Homo sapiens: one gene and its partners. The protein of the gene in region 1 interacts with the protein of each later gene in a pairwise test. Each region holds a gene or a part of one and is shown in the gene's direction. Other genes may lie near its edges.

Region 1 (3,500 bases):
TATTTGTGTCTCTAAGGAGTCAGATGTGAAGTGGGTGGTGATGGTGGTAGTAAATTTCTGTGTGTTTCTCTGTTAACCCAGGAAAGTATAAATACCATGAGTAACATATATTTATAGCACCTACAGAAGCGGCTCAAATTATTTCTGCAGCAGGTGATACCCTGTCGGTCCCAGCCCCTGCAGTTCAGCCTGAGGAATCTTTAAAAACTGATCACCCTGAAATTGGTGAAGGAAAACCCACACCTGCACTTTCAGGTAATTTAATTATTTCTATTTGTTCTTTTATACATGATACACTCATCAGAACTATTTAATGCCTAGGCAACACGTAGACACTAAGTATACATTTACACTAGGTTTAGGTCTTCAGAGTTTCTTAGGAAATTTTTAAAATTTAAATGTCCGAATGTATCTTTTTAAACAAGAAGATTAAAGCCTGATTCCTATTTCTTCATTTTGGAATCATTAAGAGTAATGATATGGTTTTAGAATTCTTAACACAAAAATGCCCTGCATTGATATAACTGGCCAGTACAAACGATGCTTTTTTTATATCCCTGTTAGCTATTAAAATTCTATGCTGAAATTTGATTTCCTCTTATTTACTTTTGCTGCAAGAAGAAGCATCCTCATCTTCTATAAGGGAGCGACCACCTGAAGAAGTTGCAGCTCGCCTTGCACAACAGGAAAAACAAGAACAAGTTAAAATTGAGTGTATGTAAACCAGACAGCTTCTTAAGGATTTTGGGTCATCTCCCAGTTGCTCTCTTCTTAAACTATCAGCACAAGTTTGTCATCTATCACCTAGTTGTGGTTTCTTTTGTTGCTGCGGTTGTTTTTTAGTGGCATTGCTTTATTCATCACCTTCATTTCATCTAAACTTCTTTTACCTAAGTGACAAAGGCTATTCTTAGTGTATAGTTGGTGAAAACTCCAAATAATACTAAAGATTATGTTAGCGCTAAAGATTCTTTATACTCTGGGAAACAGAAATTGATTATTTATGTTTTAGCAGCTTGCCTAAAAGTCCTTTATTTATTTTTTTGAGATAGGCTCTTTTCTGTCACCCAGACTGGAGTGCGGTGGCACTGTCATGGCTCACTGCAGCCTCAACCTCCCAGGCCAAAGCCATCCTCCCACCTCAGCCTCCTCTGTAGCTGGGACTACAGGCGTGTACCACCATACCCAGCTAATTTTTTAAAAATTTTTTATAGACACAGGCATCTCACTATGTTGCCTAGACTGGTCTCGTACTCCTGGGCTCAAGTGATCCTCCCACCTTGAACTCCCAAAGTGCTGGGATTACAGGCCTGAGCCCTTGTACCCAGCCCTAAGAGTCTTTTATTAATAATTGTTAATTTATACTTGTAAATAATTGTTTATTAATAATTGTAAATTTATTTGTTGGAGTCAGAATGGCTTACACTGCCTTATCATCTAGCCTCTGGACTCTCTAGTAGTGCTTTTATCTGACACTGGTGGGGCATGGAATGTTCTACACATCGCTGGTTTCCAGCTAACAAGCATATTCCTTTTTAAGTTTCAGTTTTATGGTTTTTTTGTTTGTTTGTTTTTAAGAGATGGGCTCTTACTGTGTTGGTCAGGGTAGTGTTGGACTCTTGGCCTCAAGAAATCCTCCCACCTTGGCCTCCCAAAGTGCTGGGATTACAGGCATGAGCTACCACACCTGGCCAAGTTTTTTTTATCATTATTATTATTTTTGCTGTCCTCGGTAGGTCAGGATTCTTAAATTTTTTGATGGTTTAAAAAAGATAATAGATATTTATCAATTTATTTTTCTGTCTTAAAGCACATGTAACATAATTTTTTGTACTGTGCTATAATATGTTGATGTCTCTGGAGGTCGTGGGATGTAGCTTTTTGCTGGACAGAGAGTTCAGTACTCATGGCAGCTGTTTATAGTTTTTTGATCTCCTTGTCATTTGTTTTGCTCCTGTTTCCCTTGTAATGTGCTGGTTCTGCCCTACCCTGAGGAACCAAGTTTCTTAGAATAGCATAGGTGTCATTCTGTGCCTATGGCATTAGTTTTCCTACTTGGATTTGGATTTTCGTTTTTGATTTTTTGTATTCTTCTGATTGTGTTACAAATATTTGTGAATATTTAATAAATGACTTCTAACTAAGTGAAATATTTCATTTTTCCTACTTCTTTTTTCTTTTAGTCCTGTTTTTTCTTCACTTTTCACTTTTCTCTCTTTATCACTTGGGCACCTTGAAATTAAGTTATAAACGTAAGATGGAGATGTCTGCTGTTCCAGCTGTTCTTTTCCTTGCCTGGTTCCTCTCATCTTTCATTTTGGGCAAAGTGAAAATTTTCAGAATTTTATCTGTCACCTCTTAATTCCCCCTCAAACTTGACTTTAAAAATATACACATATGCATTTGCATGTGAAATATTTATCAAGGATCAAAGGACAGTGACTAAACCTCTGAAGAGGGCTGGAAGCAGCAGGTGCCTCCCAGCAGCCCACTTTCTGTGGCCTCCATAAAGTGGTTCACAACTGCCTGTACTTGATGTCCACTGTTCACTCACGCATGTCATGGGATCCAAATACCACGGTTTCTCTCCCTTGCCCCTTTCTCTTGTTGTATCCCCTGCTCTCATTTCACTTCTATCACTTCTGTCAATTTCTTTTTATTTTCTCCTTATTAGTTTTCCTCTTATCTTTCTTGCAGAGGTACCATTTGTAGTTCCTCAGATTCCATTTGTTCATTGCTAGTTTATGCTTCTTTTCCTCAAAATCATCTTTTTTTCTCGCTTGTCAAATACATTTTTTATTTTTTGTCATGTGATATCATTTATTTAATTAATTTGTTTTGAGACAGAGTCTCACTCTGTCACCTAGGCTGGAGTGCAGTGGTGCAATATCGGCTCACTACAACCTCCAACTCCCAGGTTCAAGCGATTTTCCTGCCTCAGCCTCCTGAGTAGCTGGGACTATAGGCACCCACCACCATGTCTGGATAATTTTTGTATTTTTAGTAGAGACGGGGTTTCACAATGTTGGCCAGCCTGGTCTCGAACTCCTGACCTCAGGTGATACACCTGCCTCGGCCTCCCAAAGTGCTGGGATTACAGGCGTGAGCCACTGCGCCGGCCCATTTATTATTAAATTAGTATTCTTACTAGCCGCCTTTCTTCAAATGACCATTTATTTTTGCATTTTAGTAAATTATCTAAAATTGTCATTTGCTTTACTTTTTGGTATTCCCGAAACAGCATATAGAAATGTGATCTTAATAGATGGAAGCCTCTTGAACATTGGTGTCTGCTATTTCTTGAGTCCTTTTATGGAAGAACACTGTCCATTTCAAGTTGCCTTTGGGTTTTGTTTTGTATTTTTTGACCTGTTTTCTTATTTGTCTTTTTCTTTCTCTTGTCTGTTTTCTTGTATCTTGTCAACATAAGTGTTTTGCTATGAGTATTCCTTCTTGCCAAGGGGATGAAATGGGCACCTCTTTTTCCCTGTTACGATTGT
Region 2 (3,500 bases), on another chromosome or scaffold:
TGGCAGATTGCCTTATTAAAAATGAGAAAGATGAAATATGCAATCAATACTTGCTAGAAATGAGAACAGATCAGTCAACCAATAAGAAATTCGTGACAACTCAGAAGATCTGATAAGACTACACTGGACGCTTAATAAAGGGCCTGCGTTTGAGGCCGTGGATTGCCGGCCTGTTCTTCCAGTCATCGTTCCTAACTAACTAACTGCCTACCGGTTCTGTTTTAGGGGCCCATCCTGATGGAGCTGCAGACTTACCGTTACCACGGACACAGTATGAGTGACCCTGGAGTCAGGTACGCTCATGGGCAGTGTGGTTTCCATAGGGGTGGGCTTTGAATGGTGTTACATGGCAAAAGCAACACATTTCAGTATTTGCTTTTGGAGCTAGATACCAGTTCACTTCATGTACGCAGTTGTGTTGGGCATCAAGTTATCTGAAAGCAGTGCCTCCTAATAAGAAAGCTTTCTGAAAATGCCTACAGTGTATAGTGTGTGTGAGCACAAGCAGCAATTTTTAAAGAAAGAGTGTTATATACCTTAATTGTAGAGGGAAATTGTTACATAAAACAGGGCTGATGGTAGTGTAGTATCTTGGGGGCATTTAGCTTTTGTAGGCATTACCCCAAGTCTACACCTGGCATACTCTACCTGAAGAGGATCAGAATTTGGAGATGTTCCTCTGTCTGGTATAGAGCTAAGGGTAACTGGGTGTTCAATCCGTTGAAATACATCAATCAAAAAAGCTAGGTTCCACTAGGAAGGCATGAATTTTACTTTTTTGCTTAGTAGCTCTGGCCTGTGATTCTGGAATCCCAGTTTTGACACAGTTGAATAAATAAGCCTTTGTAGAGTGGACTTCTAAGGAAAAATCATGTAGAGAGCACAGTATATGGAAAAATGCACTTTGTGTAAATCTATTGTTGAAAATGGTAGAATCCTTTTAGTGTTACTTCAGATGATATAGGCATAAGATACATTGGTTTTGCTGGCTGTGCTTCTTTAGGGGGACTTAAGGGAGAAAGGCAAGGCACATGGATTTCCTGCTTGGCGCTCTGATGTCTCAAAGTCTAATTATCACCACACACACCATCTCTGCTGTCCCCACCCATGTAGTATACAGGAGCCCAAATGGGTGGGACAAGTGACACTTCTTTAGAACCTTACATCTAAATCAAAGCAGCAAGCAAAAACTTGGCCCCTGTTGTCGGAATGCCAGGGAAGCCATGTGACTCACCAGTGTACGGTTTTCTAGAAAAGACAGAAGCAGTTATTACAGAATGTTAGGCTGCGTTCTGGTATTTTGAAAGTATAACAACAACTCTGCCACGCCTATAGTGACATAAGCATTGGTATGCCCCTTTGTTTCAGAAACACACTTCTGTATTTCACCTCATTGGGACAATCCAACCCCATATCATGTTTCATCACGCCGTCCTTGCTCTACTGGAACTGCTCTTACTGATCGATTACTACTTTTCCCTCCCCATAGTTACCGTACACGAGAAGAAATTCAGGAAGTAAGAAGTAAGAGTGACCCTATTATGCTTCTCAAGGACAGGATGGTGAACAGCAATCTTGCCAGTGTGGAAGAACTAAAGGTACAGTCACTTGTTCATGGTGGTTTGAAGGTTGGCTTTAAAAGTTGCCACCCCTGGGTGGCCACAGAGTTTGTGTGGGTTCCTCCAAGCCCAGAAAGTGATGTCCTGGGACATAAATAGTTCCATAGTTCCAAAGTCCCTTGGGGTGGGGGCTTTTCCTTTAGTTTCCTCTATTCAAAATTGTATTACTCTTCAGATTTCAGATTTTGGTGGACTGTGAACCACCATCACAGTGGCAAAGCCCCCACAGTAGTATGGTTCTTTTTTCCTAAAAGTATACTGTGGATTTTTAATTCATAAAATAGATACACCCTAGAAATCTGTATTCCAAAATCTTCTGAATTAGCAACTGTTCGTACTTGTAGTTAAAGAGTTACACCAGCAACAGGTCCTCAGCAGAACTCTAGTTGGTACCTAAGCTGCTGTTCATTCTAAAACCTTTTACACTGTTACCTAATTTTTAGGAAATTGATGTGGAAGTGAGGAAGGAGATTGAGGATGCTGCCCAGTTTGCCACGGCCGATCCTGAGCCACCTTTGGAAGAGCTGGGCTACCACATCTACTCCAGCGACCCACCTTTTGAAGTTCGTGGTGCCAATCAGTGGATCAAGTTTAAGTCAGTCAGTTAAGGGGAGGAGAAGGAGAGGTTATACCTTCAGGGGGCTACCAGACAGTGTTCTCAACTTGGTTAAGGAGGAAGAAAACCCAGTCAATGAAATTCAATGAAATTCTTGGAAACTTCCATTAAGTGTGTAGATTGAGCAGGTAGTAATTGCATGCAGTTTGTACATTAGTGCATTAAAAGATGAATTATTGAGTGCTTAAAGATTATTTTTGACTTAAAATAGTATACTTTGAACAAATACTCTAATTATGAAAAGGAAGAACAATTCCTTGTATGCCTGTTTCCCCTGCCCCCAGCCACCTTTTTGGGAGGAGACCATTATGGCGGGGCCCCTCACAGCATTCTACCAACCATAGCACCCACCCCGAGCAGCGCTGGTGCTGCAGCCTGTTCGCGCTGACCATTTCTCTACAAGATACAATATTTATTATCAGGCAAGAGGACAGTTCCATTTTAAAATAAGACTTTTGTAATCATTCCAATTTTGTAATCATTTCAAAGGCCACATAACTTAGTTTTCTCTACTTACACATTCAGTATAAATATGAAGCTATTTTCTGTTCATATCAAACATTAACTACAAGGCACATTCGTATCAGTTTTGTGTTTCTCAAATTGAAGTACCATACCAGTTCTGAGGCAGTGTCCCAGCTTCCATGTTTGTTAAATACCCCTTGTTTGTTTCACCATTCCAGCAAGTGCTGAAGGGTGTACTTTTTTTGAGACAGGGTCGGGCTCTGTTGCCCAGGCTGGAGTGCAGTGGTGTGATCATGGCTCACTGCAGCCTCCACACCTCCTGGGCTCAAGCAATCCTCCCACCTCAGCCTCCTGCATAGCTGGGACTACAAGTGAATTTCCTAATATTCCGGGAGGTCAAAACCAAGGCTCACTGTTTTCACAATACACACAGTTCTATGTTTATAAATAACAGGTTTCAAAAGAAACTCAGGACAGTATTTAAAACAAGTTCTTAAACTATTAATTGAACAATGGCATTTTTAAATATGTAAACACAGCGGAATTCGTGTATACACTAACAGAAGCTTTAACAAAACATGTAGCGTGGTGGGACACTCTGCCACAGCTTAGCTGATTGGTATCAAGCCTTGTCTTTGGTTTCTGAGGCCTCCTGAGCCCTTCTGTACTGGGAGACCGCACTCCAGAGTCTGCAGAGGAGACCACCCCTGGGAAACAAACACAGCTGTCTTCAGAGTCAGTGCTTCAAGCCAACAGAGCTTAAAACTGCAGTCCCTAATTTAAAAACCTAATGAAAATAA
Region 3 (4,060 bases), on another chromosome or scaffold:
ACTCCCCTTGCCCCTTGACCTGCTCCTTCCTTATGGAGGGGCCTCCTCTCTTACTTGGTGACCCACACCCCCACTTCTGGGTGCTTTTGCTCTTGGTTGCACCCTGCCGACAATCCCGGTGTCAGGAGTCCTCTGCAGGCACAGCAGTGATGAGGGACAGTCCCTACCTTCCCCCACCTAGGAGTAATAATATGACCACTGCAAAGTCACCCAGAAAAGACCATAAAAACCTCAAGCTCAGCCGGGCGCGATGGCTCATGCTTGTAATCCCAGCACTTTGGGAGGCTGAGGTAGGAGGATCATGAGCTCAGGAGTTGGAGACCAGTTTGGCCAACATGGTGAAACCCCGTCTCTACTAAAAATACAAAAATTAGCCAGGTGTGGTGGCACGAGCCTGTAGTCCCAGCTACTCAGGAGGCTGAGGCAGGAGAATTGCTTGAATCCGGGAGGTGGAGGTTGCAGTGAGCCGAGATCGCCACTGCACTCCAACCTGGGCGACAGAGCAAGGCTCCGTGTCAAAAAAAAAAAAGTAAAAAGTAAAATTAAAACCTCAAGTTCTCGAAGAGCAGGAAAGCATTCTAAATCCGCGCTCCAGCTCACCTGGCCTGGAACGAAGCTGCTAAAATTGCGAGGCCGCAGGCTTCAAACTTGCGCTAGATTTGACCGAGCCGGGCAAATGCTCCTAGGCCTTTGGGATAGACACGCTGCTCGGATGTCGCGTAAAGGCCGTTAGTGTCGGGGGTTGCACTCGCGGGGCCAGGGACTAGGTGGGGGCGGTCGGGCCGGCCCGGGGAATCCGGTGGGGTTCAGGGCCGCGCGGGGGGCCTCATATCCCCCGCGGGCACTGCGTAAGGCTGCCAGCATTGGCAGCGCATTTTGGCCAACAGTCGAAGACGGGTTGGGACGCCCCCTCGTGGGAGTTCTGGGGATGGGTTGCTCCAGGCCTTCCCCAGGGCCGCGCTTCACTTCCCTAGGCCACCGGAGACTCCCAGGCCACGCGGTGGTCAGCAGACCCTGTCTGGAGGGAGGGGACAGACAGCCGAGTCCGGGAGGGGGCAGAGAGCGGAGTCCAGCCTGGAGCCTCGCGTCCCCTTCCCAGCTGGCCCCATCCCGTCGCCTCCCCGTCTCCTCTCCCCTCCAGGGCTCGCAACAACCCCCAACTCCGCTCCCTGCCCTCTGCGGTGGTCCTAACAGAAGGCACTGTCGCCCTCCTTAAGCCCTCGGCGCTTTGCGACACTGGCCCCTGTCCCCAGAACCCGCACAGCCTGCCAGGCGCAGGGAGGGAGCAGGGTCCCATTTCCAGCCGAGACCCGGAGCTGCTGGAAGGGAGATGTCCGGAGGACGGGAGAAGGGGGATAGGGTTGGGGGCAGTGCCGCCTCCCGCTGGGGGCGTGTTCCTGAGGCCCCGCCCGGGGCCCCGCCTTTTTTGCGCCGGCTGTGACAAGCGCTGCGGCATTTGTCCCCGCGACAGCACCGCTGCCGCCGTCTCTAAGGTCGCCCGGGTCCCACCGCCGCCACCATGCCTCGGGGAAGCCGCAGCGCGGCCTCCCGGCCAGCCAGGTGTGAGGGGGACAAGGGCCCTGTGGGGAGGGGGTTAGGGAAGTGTGGGCACTCCCCTAAGGGCGTCCGCAGAGTGACCTTGGCTGCTGCTGCGCCATCTTGGCGGGGGGAGGGGTGGGGGTGCAGCACCCACGTGTGGAGACGTGGGTCGTCCATCTCTCCGGGGGTCGTTTCCAGGAGCTGCAGCCCTCCAGCCTGGGGTCTGGCCAGGATTAACCCTGCTTCCTCCCACCCCCGCAGCCGCCCAGCCGCGCCCTCTGCCCACCCGCCCGCGCACCCACCGCCCTCGGCAGCCGCCCCAGCCCCCGCCCCTTCGGGCCAGCCGGGGCTCATGGCTCAGATGGCGACCACGGCCGCAGGGGTAGCCGTGGGCTCGGCTGTGGGACACGTCATGGGCAGCGCCCTGACCGGAGCCTTCAGCGGGGGGAGCTCGGAGCCCTCCCAGCCTGCTGTCCAGCAGGTGAGCAGCGAGTCCAAGAGAAACTGAGGCAGGATTATCTCGAGGCCACACAGGGAGCTGCCCAAGTGTCCAGTGAGGAGTGTCCGCGTGTATTCACCATTGCTTCAGCCCAGGACTCTGCCCGGGAAGGGTCCTAGTCCACTGGTCTTGAGTTCACTGTCACTTAGAGGCAGGCTTCCCGGCCTCTCCCTTGAGGCCAGGGTCCCTAAGCTCCCAGGGAGAGACACCAACCAGCCCTTTAAAGATGGGAAACCCAGGCCCTGAGGGCTCAGAGACTCGCCCAAGGTCACCTCACCCTAGCAGAGGGGAGGGATGTTGGATTTCCTGAGCCCCTGTTCTCCCCACACCCAGGTCTGGGCACTGTGGCCGCTGGGCGCAAGGGCGAAGGGGAGCCACTTCCCTGATGACCTTTCCCCTGCTAGGAACCCCACCGCCGTAAGCCAAATGTGGCTTTGTGGCTAGGTCAGGGGTCATGAGGATTAGTGTAGCTGAGCCAGGAAGGTGCTAGAACTTGTGGGGGTGGGGCTCATACTCTGAGAGTACAGGCAGAGTACTGGGCTTTCCTAGAGCCTTCTCCTCCCTCTCCTGCACCCGCCCAAAGTGCCCATTAGAAGGCAGCAGAGGCCAGGCGCAGTGGCTCATGCCTGTAATCCCAGCACTTTGGGAGGCCAAGGCGGGTGGATCATGAGTTCAGGAGTTCGATACCAGCCTGGCCAACATAGTGAAACCCCCTCTCTACTAAAAATACAAAAAATTTGTTGGGCATGGTGGCGGGCGCCTGTAGCCCCAGCTACTTGGGAGGCCAAGGCAGGACAACCACTTGAACCCGGGAGGCGGAGGTTGCAGTGAGCCGAGACTGCGCCGCTGCACTCCACTCTAGGTGACAGAGTGAGACTCTGTCTCAAAAAAAAAAAAAAAAAAAGGCAGCAGAAACATGCTGTCTGTAGCCGCCTCTGCTGCTGGATCACTCAGCCTGCCTAGGACCCTTGGGACACCCAGGCTGGGGATGTGGGGAGGGGCAGGTGGCCCCAGGTTTGAAACGCACCTCCAGGTGCCAACTCCAAGCTGATCCTGCAGCCTCTTGCACTGTACCCCCAGGCCCCCACCCCCGCTGCCCCCCAGCCCCTGCAGATGGGGCCCTGCGCCTACGAGATCAGGCAGTTCCTGGACTGTTCCACCACTCAGAGTGACCTGTCCCTGTGTGAGGGCTTCAGCGAGGCCCTGAAGCAGTGCAAGTACTACCATGGTGAGTGAGTGGACCCCGACTCAGGCGGGGAGGGGGAGAGGCCAACCCTCCTCTTGCACCTGCAGGCTGACCACCAGCCTGTGCTGCCCCTCCCTTCCCAGGTCTGAGCTCCCTGCCCTGAAGAGGTCGGTGCAGACTCGGGGGCCAGTCCTGCACCCACCTCTACCCCTCGCCGACAGCCAGACCACAACACCAGATTGTACCCAGATAGCTGGGATTGGAAGTGAGGAGGTTTCTCACCCCACAGATAACCCAAGACACAAATGTGCAATTAAAAGTTTATTTTAGACCACAGCCTGTTGTGTGCCTCTCTCGATGGCCTGTCTTCAGGGAGCTCCCTGGCTGATGAGGTGGGGTCAGGATGGATGTCTCACTACAGTGTGCAATCCATCCCCTTAATCAGGGCCCTGGGTGGGGAGGAGGAGCCCTGTTGCAATCTGCACTGTGGGTAGCACAGGACAGATTCCTTGGGCAGTCCAGAGTGAGGTGGAGAGGCATTAGTCGGTGATCCCAAGGGCATCTGACTCTGAGGGTGGAATCCCAGGATGAACCCATGGTCTCCCCCTTATCAGGGATACCTGCCACCTCTACCCTTCTTGTCTCTACCTCTGCATCCCATTCTCTGCACCCACAGCTTAGGTGCCCCTGGCGGCCTCAAATCCTGTCTGACCTTGCCCCTCTTGCTGATGCAACTTCTCAGCAATTCCAGATTCTGCAAGAGGAGTCCTGCTGGGTTGTTGTCTGTTTGCACCTGATCACACAAGGCAGAGGTCATGGCTAACCCCCTTGGGTCT
Region 4 (3,500 bases), on another chromosome or scaffold:
CGTCTGCTTTAAAGTGCAAAATAGATGAGGACTCCCTGCAGTTTCATTCTAAATAGTGTACTTCTATATTTAATGTATGCAGTCCAGGGACTTCTTAGTTATTTTAGTGGCCACATTACACTGTTAAATCATATTAGAATTTTCAGCCCAATTCAGAGCTTTAAAGAGTCAATCGAGTATTGGGCATGGGTAATTACTGTCCTACCTGCCTTTGAGCAAATAATGCATTAATTACTTGGCATGACATACTAATGACCTTTATTGATCAACTTTGTAAAATTTTTATTTTTTTATTGACAAAAATTGTATAGGCGATCATTTACATGGTTATGTCTCAATAAACCTATATTATAAGTCAAAAATGCATTTAATACACCTCACTTACCAAATAGCTTAACTGAACCTGCTTTAAATGTGCTCAGAAAACTTCCATTAGTCTACAGTTGGGCAAAATCTTACACAAAGCCTATTTTTATAATACAGTGTTGAATATTCATCTCATGTAATTCAAGTAGCATTGAATACACTTCTGAAAGTGAAAAACAGGTTGTGGCCGGGCACAGTAGCTCATGCCTGTAATCCTAGCATTTTGGGAGGCCAAGGCAGGTGGATCACTTGAGGTCAAGAGTTCAAGACCAGCTTGGTCAACATAGTGAAACCCCATCTCTACTAAAAAATACAAAAATTAGCTGGGCGTGGTGGCGTGCACCTGTAGTCCCAGATACTCGGGAGGCTGAGGCATGAGAATTGCTTGAACCCAGGAGGCGAAGACTGCAGCAAGCTGAGATTGGACCACTGCACTCCAGCCTGGGCAACAGAGTGAGACTCCCTCTCAAAAAAAAAAAAAAGAAAAACAGGGCCAGGCACAGTGGCTTACGCCTGTAATCCTAGCACTTTGGGAGGTCGAGGCAGGCAGCTCACAAGGTCAAGAGATCGAGACCATCCTGGCCAACCTGGTGAAACCCTGTCTCTACTAAAAATACAAAAATTAGCTGGGCGTGGTGGTGCATGCCTGTAGTCCCAATTACTTGGGAGGCTGAGGCAGGAGAATCGCTTGAACCCGGGAGGCAGGTTGCAATTAGCTGAGATCACGCCATTACACTTCAGCCTGGCAACAGAGCAAGACTCTGTCTCAAAAAAGAAAAAAGAAAAACAGGTGGTAAGTGTACTTGAAATATGGATTCTACTAAATGCAAATCACTTTCACATCATTGTAAACTCAAAAACTTACAAGTCAAACTGTCATACATTGGGGACCATCTATATATTTATTACATACAACTTGATGTTTTGATACATACATTGATCTGTTCTTATATATGTATATTTTCTTACACAAATGTCTCTGAATACCAATCTCTTTAAAATGTTAGGTAATTAGGTGGGGCACGGTGGCTCACGCCTATAATCCCAGCATTTTGGGAGGCTCAGGTGGGCGGATCACTTGAGGTCAGGAGTTCGAGACCAGCCTGGCCAACCGGGTGAAACCCCATCTCTACTAAAAATAAAAAATTAGCCAGGTATGGTGGTGCACACCTGTAATCCCAGCTACTCGGGAGGCTGAGGCAGGAGAATCGCTTGAACCCTGGAGGCAGAGGTTGCAGTGAGCCCAATTCAGAACTGTAAAGAGTTGCAGTGAGGCAAGATTGCGCCACTGCACTCCAGCCTGGGTGACAGAGTGATACTCCATGTTAAATAAATAAAATGTTAGGTAGTTAACTCTGCTAACCTCAAAAGGAAAAATGCTTAACCAGTACCTCTTCTACTCTTAGGGTATTTTACTGGATGAAGCCTCAGGTGTAAACAAGAATCAACAGCCTGTCCTCCCTGCCGGCTTGCAGGTCCCCAAAACGGTAGTGTCCAGCTGGAACCGTAAGGTGAGGGCTTTTCAGATTAACTAGAGCTCTTGATGTCAGCTTCATAACAGAGATTTTGCTCATTCTAACATGCATTTCTGTTCTAATTTATTAGAGAACTGGCCACTGTCTCCTTTAGTTTGTTCTCATAAACATACACAAACTAATTACACCCTCTTCTTCTCTTTCTGGAGACCTCTACATGCACATACATTCTTAAATGAATGAATGACCTTTGCGATGTTCTTGTCTCCTCAGAAGTCATAAATTGGAATTTACTTTTCTAATTCATCAAGTTGCTGTGTTATAAAGTATTTGTATTCATTGATCATAGGCAGCAGAATATGGCAAAAAAGCAAAATCTGAAACTTTCCGGCTGCTTCATGCAAAAAATATCATCCGACCTCAGCTCAAGTTTCGAGAGAAGATTGACAATTCCAACACACCATTTCTTCCTAAAATCTTCATCAAACCCAATGCTCAGAAACCTCTCCCTCAAGGTAAATAGTGCATACTTTGCCTGTGTTTGAGTCTCACTTTATTTGATGCAAAAACCAGGAAGGGTGTACAGGTCTCTCTTCTTTGTTCAAAGGGAGCCCACCCTCCTTTGTTCAAAGGGAGCCCAGTTCAGCTATTCCAGAGGCTGAAGTGGGAGGATCACTTGAGCCCAGGAGGTCAAGGCTACAGTGAGCTGTGCTTGTGCCACCACACTTCAGCCTGGGGGACAGAACATGACCCTGTCTCAAAAAAAAAAGCCAAAAAACAAAGGGAACCAGTTTACCCCTGTGTAATTAGAAAAGACATGAATGTGCTAATGATGTTTTTGTCACTGCTGGGATCCCCAGCTCTCTCTAAGGAAAGGCGGGAACGCCCACAGGATCGTCCTGAGGACTTGGACGTCCCCCCTGCACTGGCTGATTTCATCCATCAGCAGAGAACCCAGCAGGTTGAGCAAGACATGTAAGTGTTGGCCTGTGTCTGACTTTCTGCCGTGAGTACTTACCTTTTTGCCACATTTTCACTTTTGTGGAGTATATACATGAAAACAATCTGAGGAGTAGTGATTTCCTCCTTACACCCCAACCTGGGCCTTAGCAATAAAACCTGCTGTTTGTGTTCACAAAGGGCCTACACAGCATTGCCTCATGTAAACCTCACTGCAGTCCTGAGAAGTAGCAGTTGCTCTTATTCCCATTTTATAGATGTAAAACACGAAGGCTGGGCGCGGTGGCTTACGCCTGTAATCCCAGCACTTTGGGAGGCTGAGACCGGTGGATCACCTGAGGTCAGGAGTTCGAGACCAGCCTGGCCAACATGGTGAAACCCCATCTCTACTGAAAATACAAAAATTAGCCAGGCGAGGTGGTGTGTGCCTGTAATCCCAGCTACTCGGGAGGCTGAGGCAGGAGAATCGCTTGAACTTGGGAGGTGGAGGTTGCAGTGAGCCAAGATGGCGTCACTGCACTCCAGCCTGAGTGATAGAGTAAGACTCCATCTCAAAAAAAAAAAAAAAAAAAGATGTAAAAGCAAAATTAGAGATGCAGGCTTCTTGTAGAGTTGGAACTTCTTTGAGACAGGGTCTTGCTCTGTCGCCCAGACTGGAGTGTGGTGGCATGAACACAGCTCACTACAGCCTTTACCTCC
Region 5 (3,500 bases), on another chromosome or scaffold:
CTTTTATTCTTTTATTTTCTAAAAGCATAGACTTTTGCAGCTCAAAATTCTATATCATTATACATTCTCAACAGTTTTTTAACAAATGTTATAGATTAAAAATATTTCAGATAATAGTTATAATAGCTTCCAGTTCTTTTTCTTTGTCATCTGTATGATTAAGCATAACAACTCACTCTTAAACATGGGCAAGGACTTTCTAAGCATAAAAGCAGAGAGTGCAAATATAATAAACATGTCTACATAATATGTATGCATGTCTGATCCTCCAAATCTGTGTGTGTAGATAGTGAAAGACTATTCACTGAGAAACGTGATTGGATATTGCTTGAATGTTTTCTGAAAAATTCTTTTTCTCCCTATTCCAGGAGTCTATGAACTGGCCACTTTTCAGATGAAACCTGGTGGGCCAGCTCTGTGGGGTGATGCATTTAAAAGGGCAGTTCATGCTCATGTCAATCTAGGCTACACAAAACTAGTTGGAGTGTTCCACACAGAGTACGGAGCACTCAACAGAGGTACAATTGTCCATTTCTTCTTATATGAAATTGTAATATATATTGTGACCTAAGTTCCTTGGGTCAGGTTCTTTCTCATTATAGAGTATGTTTTATTATTTATTGCCAAATGTTTAGTTTTTTGTAATTTTTAAAATTGAGAAAATCTGTTTTACATCTTATTTATTTAGAATGTTAACTTATGAAACCTTCAAATGCTGAATAGCTGTTTTCCCTGATACATCAAAATGATTAAATTTTTTAAACTGAAGGAACCTCGGCTGGGCACGGTAGCTCAGGCCTGTAATCCCAGCACTTTTGGAGGCTGAGGGGGTGGATCACCTGAGGTCAGGAGTTCGAGACCAGCCTGGCAAACATGGTGAAACCCCGTCTCTAGTAAAAATAGAACAAATTAGCCAGGCATGGTGGTGGGGGCCTGTAATCCCAGCTATTCTGGAGGCTGAGGCAGGAGAATCACTTGAATCCAGGAAGCGGAGGTTGCAATGAGCCAAAATCGTGCCATCGCACTCCAGCCTGGGTGACAAGAGCAAAACTCCATCTCAAAAAAAAAAAAATGAAGGAACCTCAAGAAATAGTCTGTTACTTTCATCATTTCTTTTTCCTCTGAATGTACTTTTATTGATTTTTTAAAAATAATATTATTTGGGGTAGGGAGATTATCTCTAAGCAAAAAAGTAATATATGTTTTGTATAAATATGAAAACCCCCCTCATAAAAATTTACCCATTTTCCACCAGTTTTATATATATCTATATAGGGAGATATAGTAAATATGTATATATATTGAGGTAAATTTATATATGGATATAAATTTATTTAATAAAACACATACTTGGGGTATTTAACTTGTAATGTTGAAAAACATTTCAATCAGAATTTCAAGATTTTTTGTGGCAAATTCAGAAAAACATTTGTAAAGTTTATCTGAAAGGATAAAAGAGCTGATGAGGTAGCTCATACCTGTAATTCCAGCGCTTTTGGGAGGCTGAGGCTGGTGGATTGCTTAAGCCCAGGAGTTCACGACTAGCCTGGGCAACACAGCTTGTCTCTACAAAAAAAATTTTAAGAATTAGTTGGGCATGGTGGCAAACACCTGTAGTCCTAGCTACTTGGGAGGCTGAGGTGGGAGGATTGCTTGAGCCAGGAGTTCAAGGCTACAGTAAGCTATGATTGCACCACTGCACTCCAACCCCTGAACGACATAGTGAGACCCTGTCTCTTAAAAAAAAAAAGTAACGAAGAAAGGATAAATGTCTAAGAATAGCTAACAAATATTTGAAAGACTCATCATAATATCCTGTTGCCTTTCTATTATCTCTTTATGTCCAATGGACATCTCAAACCTAATATACCCATCTTTATGCAGAAATTCAACTTCTTGTAATAATCTATCATAAGAAAATAGAATATATAAAAACAGATGTATATTCAGGTTGGAAAATACATGGAGGAGAAACTGTTATGAAAATTATTAGATGCCTATCTCACACCATATGCGAAAATAAAGTCAAGCTGGATTGTATATTTTAATGAAAAAAATTTAATTCATAAAATTGGTAAAACAAAATGTAGATGAATTTATTTAATAATGTGGATTGGGACTATATTTGTAAGCCAAAAGCAAATGAAGAAACTATGAAGAAAAAAAAATCAACTTATGATTTTATTATACAAAGGCTCAAACTATCTGGATGCCTGAAAATCACCATAAATGAAATTCAAAAGCAAAAATAAAAATAAAAATTTATGCAAAAGTAGACATGCACATGGCTACTAAATATATATTAAAGAAAATGCATATTAAAACAATAATGAGATGCCATTTCTTTACCTTATAAAAGGTATACTTACATGGATATAGTATTAGGTCAGGAAAAAATAAGTACTCAGATACTGTGTAGGGTTCATATTAGCTTAATCTTCCCCCAAAATTTGACAATAAAAATAAAAGCCTTATTTTTATTGTTTTTGCCAGTATTACTTCTAGAAAATATGCCTGGGTGTGTATGTGTATAGGTGTGCTAAATTATACAGAAAAGAAATTTGAAAGTATATAACATACATAGTAGTCATATTTCAGTGAGATAAATGGTTAAGTCTCTATGTTAATATTCTTTTTTTTTTTTTTTTTTTGAGATGGAGCCTCGCTCTGTGGAGTGCAGGTACGATCTCAGCTCCCTGCAACCTCCGCCTCCTTGGTTCAGGCGGTTCTCCTGCCTCAGCCTCCCAAGTAGCTGGGATTACAGCTGTGTGCCACCATGCCCAGCTAATTTTTGTATTTTTAGTAGAGACAGGATTTCACCAGGCTGGTCTCAAACTCCTGACCACAGGTGATCCGCCCGCCTCGGCCTCCCAAAGTGGTGGGATAAGAGGCCTGAGCCACTACACCTAGCCTCTACCTTAATTTTCTATACTGCACATATTAAGTTTTATTTTTTTAAAAACTACAGAAAATGTGTGTTCATACACTTTTTAATCTTAAATTCATTCTCAGTGTTAGGAGAATTGGTAATCAGTACATCATTTCTGGAGGACAGTGTATACTATATACACTATATGTAAGTACATATATATAAGACATGCTCTTTGGTTCTGTCAACTTAAATTCTACTTTATATTAAGGAAATAATCAGATTCAGACTGCCTGGGTTTGAATCCCAGGTACACTACTTACTTTTTGACTTTGGGTAAGTAAACCTCACCATACCTTAGTTTTTTCATCTATAAAATGATAGATTATTATGAGGACCTAGATTATTATGAGGATTAAATGAGTTAATACATTAAAATGCTTAAAACTAGGCCTGACACATAGTTATCATTCAATAAATGTCAGTAGTTGTCATCGAAAGTATTATTATAAACACATAGTTGTGCTCAAATGAAGTTTATGTTAATATTGTTTACATTAAAGAAACATTGGAAATGTAGTATGACCTTCTTTATGTAATACATACGTAATACAGAAATCGATATACATGT
Region 6 (4,067 bases), on another chromosome or scaffold:
TCCCAGCTGTTTGGGAGGCTGAGGCAAGAGAATCACTTGAACCCAGGAAGCAGAAGTTGCAGTGAGCGGGGAGATTGTGCCACTGCACTCCAGCCTGGGGGACAGAGAGAGGGCCGTCTCAAAAAAAAAAAAAAAAAAAGTACACCTTAATCTGGTTTCAAGGTGCAAGATCTGCACCTATCCTTCCATTTAAGTTTCATCAAACCGCTGCTACCTCCCCGTCTCCCACACAATTTATGGGACTTCTAAGTTCCCTCTAAAGGGTCCGAACACCTACACTGGTAACAAGCCACCTGGATTTGAATCCTGGCAAGACAACTTACTATCTGACCTTGGACATTGTGCTGTTCTTAACCTCTCCGTGCCTCGGTTTCCTCATGTGTATGAATAACATCAACACCTACATCAAAGTTTGCTGTATTAAATTTGATAATATATGCAAAGCATTTAGAAAAGTGCCTAGCTCATAGAAAGCCTTATGTAAATATTAACTATCATTTTTTTTCTTTTTTGGGGTGGTGGGGGAGGGGTTTCGCTTTTGTTGCCCAGGCTGGCGTGCAATGGCACGATCTCGGCTCACCACAACCTCGGCCTCCCGGGTTCAAGCGATTCTCCTGCCTCAGCCTCCCGAGTACCTGGGATTACAGGCATGCACCACCACGCCCGGGTAATTTTGTATTTTTAGTGGAGACGGGGTTTCTCCATGTTGGTCAGGCTGATCTCAAACTCCCGACCTCAGGTGATCCGCCCGCCTCGGCCTCCCAAAGTGCTGGGATTACAAGCGTGAAGCACCTCGCCCGGCCTAGCTATCATTTTTATACAAGTGCTGGGTTTTGGGAGAATGTAATGATGGCTTTTTTCTTACTAAACTTTCAGTGCAGGAGGAGGAGAAAGAAAGTAAATAGTTATATGAACACAGTAGAAAGTCAAAGTGGAAAACAAAAAGAACATAGAACCCAGGTGAGCGGTCCAGACCTCCCCCCAGAAACCTAAGAATCCATAGAAATGGGTGGGAAGCGGAGAAGATCCTCCAGACAGCAGGTGGCGATGTAGCATCCCCCAGAAGGCCCGCTAACAGAAGCTAGGAGGACGCGCTACCAAGGTCACGTGTCCCCGGCGTTCACTCGCTCTTCGCTTCACGACACTCGCATCCTCACGGGTGATTGGTCTGCGTGCGGCACGTGGGCGGGGTACCGGGGCGGGCCGGGGAGGGGCGGGGTGGGCGGAGGAGAGGGGCAGGGGGCGGAGCTGGAGGGGGTGGTTCGGCGTGGGGGCCGTTGGCTCCAGACAAATAAACATGGAGTCCATCTTCCACGAGAAAGTGAGTGTCCGCGTTCGGTGGGGAGCTGTCTGCCGCGCGGTGGCGGGCGTGGAGCGCGGCATCACCGCCTCTCGGAGGGCTGGGTGGGGCCCGAGTCGCCCCCATGCCGATCTCGCCCGGCGAGGGGCGACGCCGCAGCCTCCCGCCTCCTCGGCTCGAGGAGGGGAGCATCACCTACGCCCCTACTTCCCCCGCGGCCCCCGCCCTGGGAGCCGGGAGGGAGTATGGGCGGGGCCGGGGGCGTCTCGGGACACGGGAGTGGGGTGGCGCCCAGTGGGTTTGCTTCTGCCTTTCTCCGTCACTTTCCATCGCTTTTCGGAGGATTCCTTCACCCCTCCCCAATCCTTCCCTCTCCCTAGGGTCTAGCTAGAGTCATCTCTGGGACACCTCCCTCAACCCCTCCTACCCTAATCCTGGCAGAATTAACTTTTCCTCCTCCGGACTGCTCAATTCTATATTGGAGTCTTCCCTACACGTAGATCTTTGGGGTCTTGTTCGTGTCTTTCCCCTGCACTAGGTCCGCGAGCCTCCCGAGGGAGGAGACCTTGGCTCGCCCACTGTAGGGCCTGACATTTAGGAAGTGAAGTAGGAAACCCGGCGTGCCCCTAAACAGGGAAGTCGTCACAAGAGTTTTTATTACGGGATGTTTGGGTTTGGTTTCTTTTGGTACTCCCATCTTTCCGGAGCAGGCGGCCAGCTTTGTTTTTAGGTATTAGGAGTGGACTGGGATGATTTTGTTGTAGTCTGCCTAGCCTGCTGTCCCTTTAACTCTTCCGTGACCATGCACTTGAAGATACTGTTTGTGATATGTAAAGAAACTCCTCGTTTCTCTCATACTATTATCCAGCCATTTGTGTGTGAGTGAAGCCTTCCCCAGGACAGCTTTGGCACATGGTATCATGTTTCATAATAGTTTCGTGTTTGGAAAGAGTTGCTGGTAAGGCTGTTATTTAATAGGAGGAGCAAAGGGTTTTTGTTTTATTAAATACTTATAAATGATCATTTATCCCAGACATTTAAAATTCACACACACACAACAAATAAAGCAAAGACAAAAGAATACATTTACCAAATGTAAATCTGTAGCATAAATTTTTTTTAATTTTTATTTTAAAGATGGGGTCTCATTCTGTCACCCAGGCAGGTGTGCAATGGAGAGATCATGGCTCACTGCAGCCTTGATCTCCTAGGCACAAGCGATCCTCCCGCCTCTGCCTCCAGAGTAGCTGGGACTACAGGTGCATATCGCCAGGGCCAGGTAATGTTTTTGGGAGAGACGGGGTCTCGCTGTGTTGCCCAGGCTGGTCTCGAACTCCTGGACTCAGGTGATTCTCCCACCTCGGCCTCTCGAAGTGCTGTGATTACAGGCGTGAGCCACTGTGCCTGGAACAAATTGTTAAGTACAATGCTTTTCATTGTAGAAAACATCTCGGAAACTTTTGAAATAGGCTGATGTTCAGTGGGGGAGGAAGGACTCAGTCGTATAGTTGTCACTAATTTTTTGACTTGATTGACATGACTCGTAAATCATAGACAATAGAGATTTGGTTGCTTGGCTGAGTAGAGTGCGTGAAAAATACACACGTACTTTTTTTTTTTTTTTTTTGAGATGGAGTTTGGCTCTTGTCACCCAGGCTGGAGTGCAATGGCGCCATCATGGCTCACTGCAACCTCCGCCTCCCCGTTCAAGCGATTCTCCTGCCTCAGTCTCCCCAGTAGCTGAGATTACAGGCGCCCGCCACCACGCCCAGCTAATTTTTGTATTTTTAGTAGAGACAGGGTTTCACCATGTTGGCCAGGCTGGTCTCCAACTCCTGACAGGTGGTCCGCCCGCCTCGGCCTCCCAAAGTGCTGGGATTACAGGCGTGAGCCACCGCACCCGGCCATATTTTTGTTATTAATTTTCAAAGGCTTTGGTGTGGGACCACATTTCAACATGGAAGGCCTTAAACATGTTCCACACTACTTCCTGAGAATTAGACAAGATTTTTAACAATATTGTTACCTAGTTGGGACACATTTGTACTGACCCATGGGATGAAAAAAAGCTGAGTGCTAGCCTAGTGAAAATCTACTTACCCGAAAGAAATCCCTCTTAGTCTGGGTGCAGTGGCTCACACCAGTGCTTTGGGAGGCCCAGACGGGCGGATCATGAGGTCAGTAGTTTGAGACCAGCCTGGCCAACATGGTGAAACCCCGTCTCTACTAAAAATACAAAAAATTAGCCAGGTGTGGTGGCAGGCGCCTGTAATCCCAGGTACTCTGGAGGCTGAGGCAGGAGAATTGCTTGAACCCGAGAGGCAGAGGTTGCAGTGAGCCGAGACCGTGCCACTGCACTTCAGCCTGGGCAACAGAGCGAGACTCCGTCTCAAAAAAAAGAAAAGGAAAAAAGAGTCCCTCTTAATTATCAGCATGTGTATAGGCCTACAGATACTTCAGGAATACCTTTACCATTATCATCAACTTGTATCTACATAGCATGTGAAGATTCAACAATTTAGTTTTTTGGGCGTCCTCAAGAGTACGCACCTATAACCATATGGCCCAATTGTTAATCTCCTATACAGTCCATTCTGGGAATGTTTGGGCTTACTGTGCCATTTTTCCGTTCACTGCCTTCCCCTCTGCAATATACCTTTAACCCTTGCTAGGTCCTGGGTTTGGAGAGCCAGAGAACCAACTTTGGCCCTAAAGAAGCTGTGTAGGTAGCAATATCTGCCTACGAAGGGCCTTGCAACCATTTCCT
Region 7 (3,500 bases), on another chromosome or scaffold:
TGGTGGCTCTGTCACCAGCTGGCCCTTCCCCATGGTGCTGCTGGATATTGTCTTAAGGAATGAGGGGGAGGGGCTGAAGACTAGATGTGAGAACTTTTGTAAACTCAGGCCATAGTAGAGGGAATTGTAATCCAACTTGGTATCCATGCCAGGGAGGAAGAGACTAAGACTGGAGGAGCCGCCGACTATTTCCTTGAGCTTTCTGACTTCTTGTCTCTATAGCCTACCGTGAAATATGAGACTCAGCCACGGTTTATCACAGCCACTGGAGGCACCCTGCACATGTATCAGTTGGAAGGGCTGAACTGGCTACGCTTCTCCTGGGCCCAGGGCACTGACACCATTCTAGCTGATGAGATGGGGCTAGGCAAGACCATACAAACCATCGTCTTCCTCTACTCACTCTACAAGGAGGTGCTGGATTCTAGGACCTTGAAGGGGACCGCCTGGACTGGGGAAGTGGGGAGGGGGAAGATAAAGGGGTGTAGCTGGCAGAGGACTAGGGTATACGGCCTCTAGCCTAGACTTATGCTGCCCCCATTCTTGACTCCCAGGGCCACACAAAAGGTCCCTTCCTGGTGAGTGCCCCACTCTCTACCATCATTAACTGGGAGCGGGAGTTCCAGATGTGGGCACCCAAATTCTATGTGGTGACATACACGGGTGACAAGGACAGCCGGGCCATCATTCGTGAGAATGAATTCTCCTTTGAGGACAATGCCATCAAAGGGGGCAAGAAAGCTTTTAAGATGAAGGTAAGACCCTCTACCTCATATCCTCTGAGACCCTCAAAGCTGTCACTTCTTTTTCTCAGCCAGGAATTCAGTTTCTCTATTCCCCTCCTCACCTTTCTCCTCTTCCTCCACCTGTCCTCCTGTCTCTGCACTACCATCCTAGAGATATGGCAGGTACTCCCAGGGGCATACATGGATCTGTCGGTACTGGAAATGTGGGCAGAGGTTTAGGAGCCATGGTCTGTAATCCCTGCTTGGAGAACAGAGTAATGGCTCCTGTTGGGAGCCACAGTCAGGACAAGGTGTCTGGTTCTGGAGGTGTAGGTGCATGGTTGTCAGGTGGCAGCTGAATGGGCAATAATTATGTTGGCAGAGGGAGGCACAGGTGAAGTTCCATGTTCTCCTGACATCGTATGAGCTGATCACCATTGATCAGGCAGCACTTGGTTCCATCCGCTGGGCCTGTCTTGTGGTAGATGAGGCCCATCGACTCAAGAACAACCAGTCCAAGGTGAGTGAGGTTTCCAGACCTAAAAAACTTGAAGTTGTGGACTTCCCACTTGCCTTGGTCCTAAAAAACAACAAAAATTCTGGGGATTTTCTGTAGTCTGGGAGGACGTCCAGGTTGGAAGAGGGAGAGGGCCAGAGATTTGGGGCCTCTGATCCTGAGTGAAATGGGAGCTGGGGCAGGGAAAGGCTGATGCTGTGGGTCGGTCACTTGTCACTAATAAGCCCATTTTCCTGCCTTGCCTTGCCCCATCTTTTAGTTTTTCAGGGTTCTCAATGGTTACAAGATAGATCATAAGTTGCTGCTGACAGGAACCCCATTGCAGAATAATCTGGAGGAGCTCTTCCATCTCCTGAACTTCCTCACCCCAGAGAGATTTAAGTAAGTGGTTCCCTAAGGGTAGTTGGCAGAGATGAGAGGTGGAGCAGATAAAATGAGCTGGTAGAGGATTAATCTGAGGTGGTAAGTCTGAGATCAGGGGCAAGGAACTTGCCGACCTGTTAATTTTCTTCTCTTCTGGCTCTTAGCAACTTGGAGGGCTTCCTGGAGGAGTTTGCTGACATATCCAAAGAGGACCAGATCAAGAAACTGCATGATTTGCTGGGGCCACACATGCTGCGGAGACTCAAGGCAGATGTCTTTAAGAACATGCCAGCCAAGACAGAGCTCATCGTTCGGGTGGAGCTAAGCCCCATGCAGAAGTAAGATGCAAGACGAGCTGCCTGGAGTAGGGCTTGGGGATTGATGGGAGCGTTCCAAGTGCAATATCATAATTGCTTCCTTTATTTATGTTTCTTTTACACCCCTTTCCTGGCCTTTAGGAAATACTACAAATACATCCTGACTCGAAATTTTGAGGCCTTGAATTCACGAGGTGGTGGGAACCAGGTGTCGCTGCTTAATATCATGATGGATCTTAAGAAGTGCTGCAACCATCCATACCTTTTTCCCGTGGCTGCTATGGTAGATACACAGAGCAGGGAGCTGATCGAACGCCCATTCTCAGAAAACATGGGTGGGGAGTAGTGGGGAGGTGGGTATTGAGCCACAGGGGTGGAGCTGGGCTGGAAGGCCACGGACTGGGTGTCTGAGAACAGGAGGAATTGGGAACATGTGGAAGCTGGATCCGGGCATCTGGCCTTCTAGGTGTGGCAAGAATATGGGGGCATGTTTCCAACTGACCCCCTCCTCCTCCTCTCTCCTCCCTTTTCAGGAGTCCCCCAAACTCCCCAGTGGGGCTTATGAGGGTGGGGCACTTATTAAGTCGTCTGGGAAGCTCATGCTGCTCCAGAAGATGCTGCGAAAGCTGAAGGAGCAAGGACACCGAGTGCTCATCTTCTCGCAGGTGACCTGTGCCCTTAGCTGTCTTTACATCTGCTTCCTCTTCCCTCTCCTCATCCTCCAGACTTTAATTTCTTACGGTCTTCCTGTGGCTGCTCTGGTGTGACAAATGAGGAGATTCCTCCTGTAAGAGTTTTTTTTTTTTTTTTTTTTTTTGAGACAGAGTTTCGCTCTTATTGCCCAGGCTGGAGTGCAGTGGCACGATCTCGGCTCACTGCAACCTCTGCTTCCTGGGTTCAAGTGATTCTCCTGCCTCAGCCTCCCAAGTAGCTGGGATTACAGGCGTGCACCACCATGCCTAGCTAATTTTTGTATTTTTAGTAGAGACGGGATTTCACCATGTTGGTCAGGATGGTCTCCATCACCTGACCTCAGGTGATCTGCCCGCCTCGGTCTCCCAAAGTGCTGGGATTACTGTATAGCAAGTTCATTCTTGGCCTCTGATGCCTGTTCTTAAGGTTGCTGGAAGTTGAGGTCCAGCTCTAGTTCCTTTTCAGCTGCATGAGGGAAGGGGGAGGGTGAGCCATCTGCCTCCTTAGGGACTGGTATTATTTCTTCATCTTATTGGCAGGTGAGGGTGAAGGGCACAGACCCTTTGGAAATGTGATGAAAGCTCTGGGTCTACTCACCAGAAAACTGCACATACAATGACACAATTTTGTACGGATTTTCAGGGGGTTCCTGGATTTCCCTGAAACCTTTTCATGGGTCTCAGAGAACCTCTGCCTTAGGAGAAACAATCTTAAATCAAGAGAGTGTGACAAGAGGGCCAGACGTGGTGGCTCACACCTGTAATCCCAGCACTTTGGGAGGCCGAGGCAGGAAGATCACTTGAGGTCAGGAGTTTCAAGACCAGCCTGGCCAACATGGTGAAACCCTGTCTCTACTTAAAATACAAAAATTAGCTGGGCGTGGTG

Evidence for each region.
Region 2: the proteins of IMMT (region 1) and PDHA1 interact in binary tests that used the Homo sapiens proteins (3 or more experiments, as listed by UniProt).
Region 3: the proteins of IMMT (region 1) and CHCHD10 interact in binary tests that used the Homo sapiens proteins (3 or more experiments, as listed by UniProt).
Region 4: the proteins of IMMT (region 1) and EXOSC10 interact in a two-hybrid assay, tested with the Homo sapiens proteins (one large-scale study listed by BioGRID).
Region 5: the proteins of IMMT (region 1) and NIPSNAP3A interact in a two-hybrid assay, tested with the Homo sapiens proteins (one large-scale study listed by BioGRID and IntAct).
Region 6: the proteins of IMMT (region 1) and ATXN3 interact in binary tests that used the Homo sapiens proteins (3 or more experiments, as listed by UniProt).
Region 7: the proteins of IMMT (region 1) and CHD3 interact in a two-hybrid assay, tested with the Homo sapiens proteins (2 studies listed by BioGRID and IntAct).

Annotation. Positions count from the first base shown.
Region 1 is NC_000002.12:86,167,963-86,171,462, reverse strand, and holds part of IMMT (MICOS complex subunit MIC60), read left to right. Parts: intron 1-81; exon of another isoform or gene 82-117; coding exon 118-255; intron 256-618; coding exon 619-714; coding exon of another isoform or gene 715-722; exon of another isoform or gene 723-2,150; intron 2,151-3,500. UniProt on the Homo sapiens protein: Component of the MICOS complex, a large protein complex of the mitochondrial inner membrane that plays crucial roles in the maintenance of crista junctions, inner membrane architecture, and formation of contact sites to the outer membrane.
Region 2 is NC_000023.11:19,357,427-19,360,926, forward strand, and holds part of PDHA1 (pyruvate dehydrogenase E1 component subunit alpha, somatic form, mitochondrial isoform 1 precursor), read left to right. Parts: intron 1-225; coding exon 226-293; intron 294-1,489; coding exon 1,490-1,598; intron 1,599-2,062; coding exon 2,063-2,227; 3' UTR 2,228-3,322; coding exon of another isoform or gene 3,323-3,407; 3' UTR 3,408-3,500. Other genes in the region: MAP3K15 (mitogen-activated protein kinase kinase kinase 15), read right to left, coding at 3,323-3,407. UniProt on the Homo sapiens protein: The pyruvate dehydrogenase complex catalyzes the overall conversion of pyruvate to acetyl-CoA and CO(2), and thereby links the glycolytic pathway to the tricarboxylic cycle.
Region 3 is NC_000022.11:23,765,334-23,769,393, reverse strand, and holds CHCHD10 (coiled-coil-helix-coiled-coil-helix domain-containing protein 10, mitochondrial isoform b precursor), read left to right. Parts: upstream 1-1,421; 5' UTR 1,422-1,519; coding exon 1,520-1,560; intron 1,561-1,800; coding exon 1,801-2,020; intron 2,021-3,097; coding exon of another isoform or gene 3,098-3,118; coding exon 3,119-3,266; intron 3,267-3,367; coding exon 3,368-3,387; 3' UTR 3,388-3,560; downstream 3,561-4,060. Other genes in the region: uncharacterized protein C22orf15, read right to left, coding at 3,835-4,060. UniProt on the Homo sapiens protein: May be involved in the maintenance of mitochondrial organization and mitochondrial cristae structure.
Region 4 is NC_000001.11:11,089,870-11,093,369, reverse strand, and holds part of EXOSC10 (exosome complex component 10), read left to right. Parts: intron 1-1,772; coding exon 1,773-1,877; intron 1,878-2,190; coding exon 2,191-2,356; intron 2,357-2,701; coding exon 2,702-2,816; intron 2,817-3,500. UniProt on the Homo sapiens protein: Catalytic component of the RNA exosome complex which has 3'->5' exoribonuclease activity and participates in a multitude of cellular RNA processing and degradation events.
Region 5 is NC_000009.12:104,754,183-104,757,682, forward strand, and holds part of NIPSNAP3A (protein NipSnap homolog 3A), read left to right. Parts: intron 1-368; coding exon 369-518; intron 519-3,500.
Region 6 is NC_000014.9:92,103,783-92,107,849, reverse strand, and holds the start of ATXN3 (ataxin-3 reference isoform), read left to right. Parts: upstream 1-1,267; 5' UTR 1,268-1,297; coding exon 1,298-1,321; intron 1,322-4,067. UniProt on the Homo sapiens protein: Deubiquitinating enzyme involved in protein homeostasis maintenance, transcription, cytoskeleton regulation, myogenesis and degradation of misfolded chaperone substrates.
Region 7 is NC_000017.11:7,898,789-7,902,288, forward strand, and holds part of CHD3 (chromodomain-helicase-DNA-binding protein 3), read left to right. Parts: intron 1-222; coding exon 223-414; intron 415-554; coding exon 555-755; intron 756-1,107; coding exon 1,108-1,245; intron 1,246-1,501; coding exon 1,502-1,623; intron 1,624-1,769; coding exon 1,770-1,943; intron 1,944-2,063; coding exon 2,064-2,205; intron 2,206-2,455; coding exon 2,456-2,587; intron 2,588-3,500.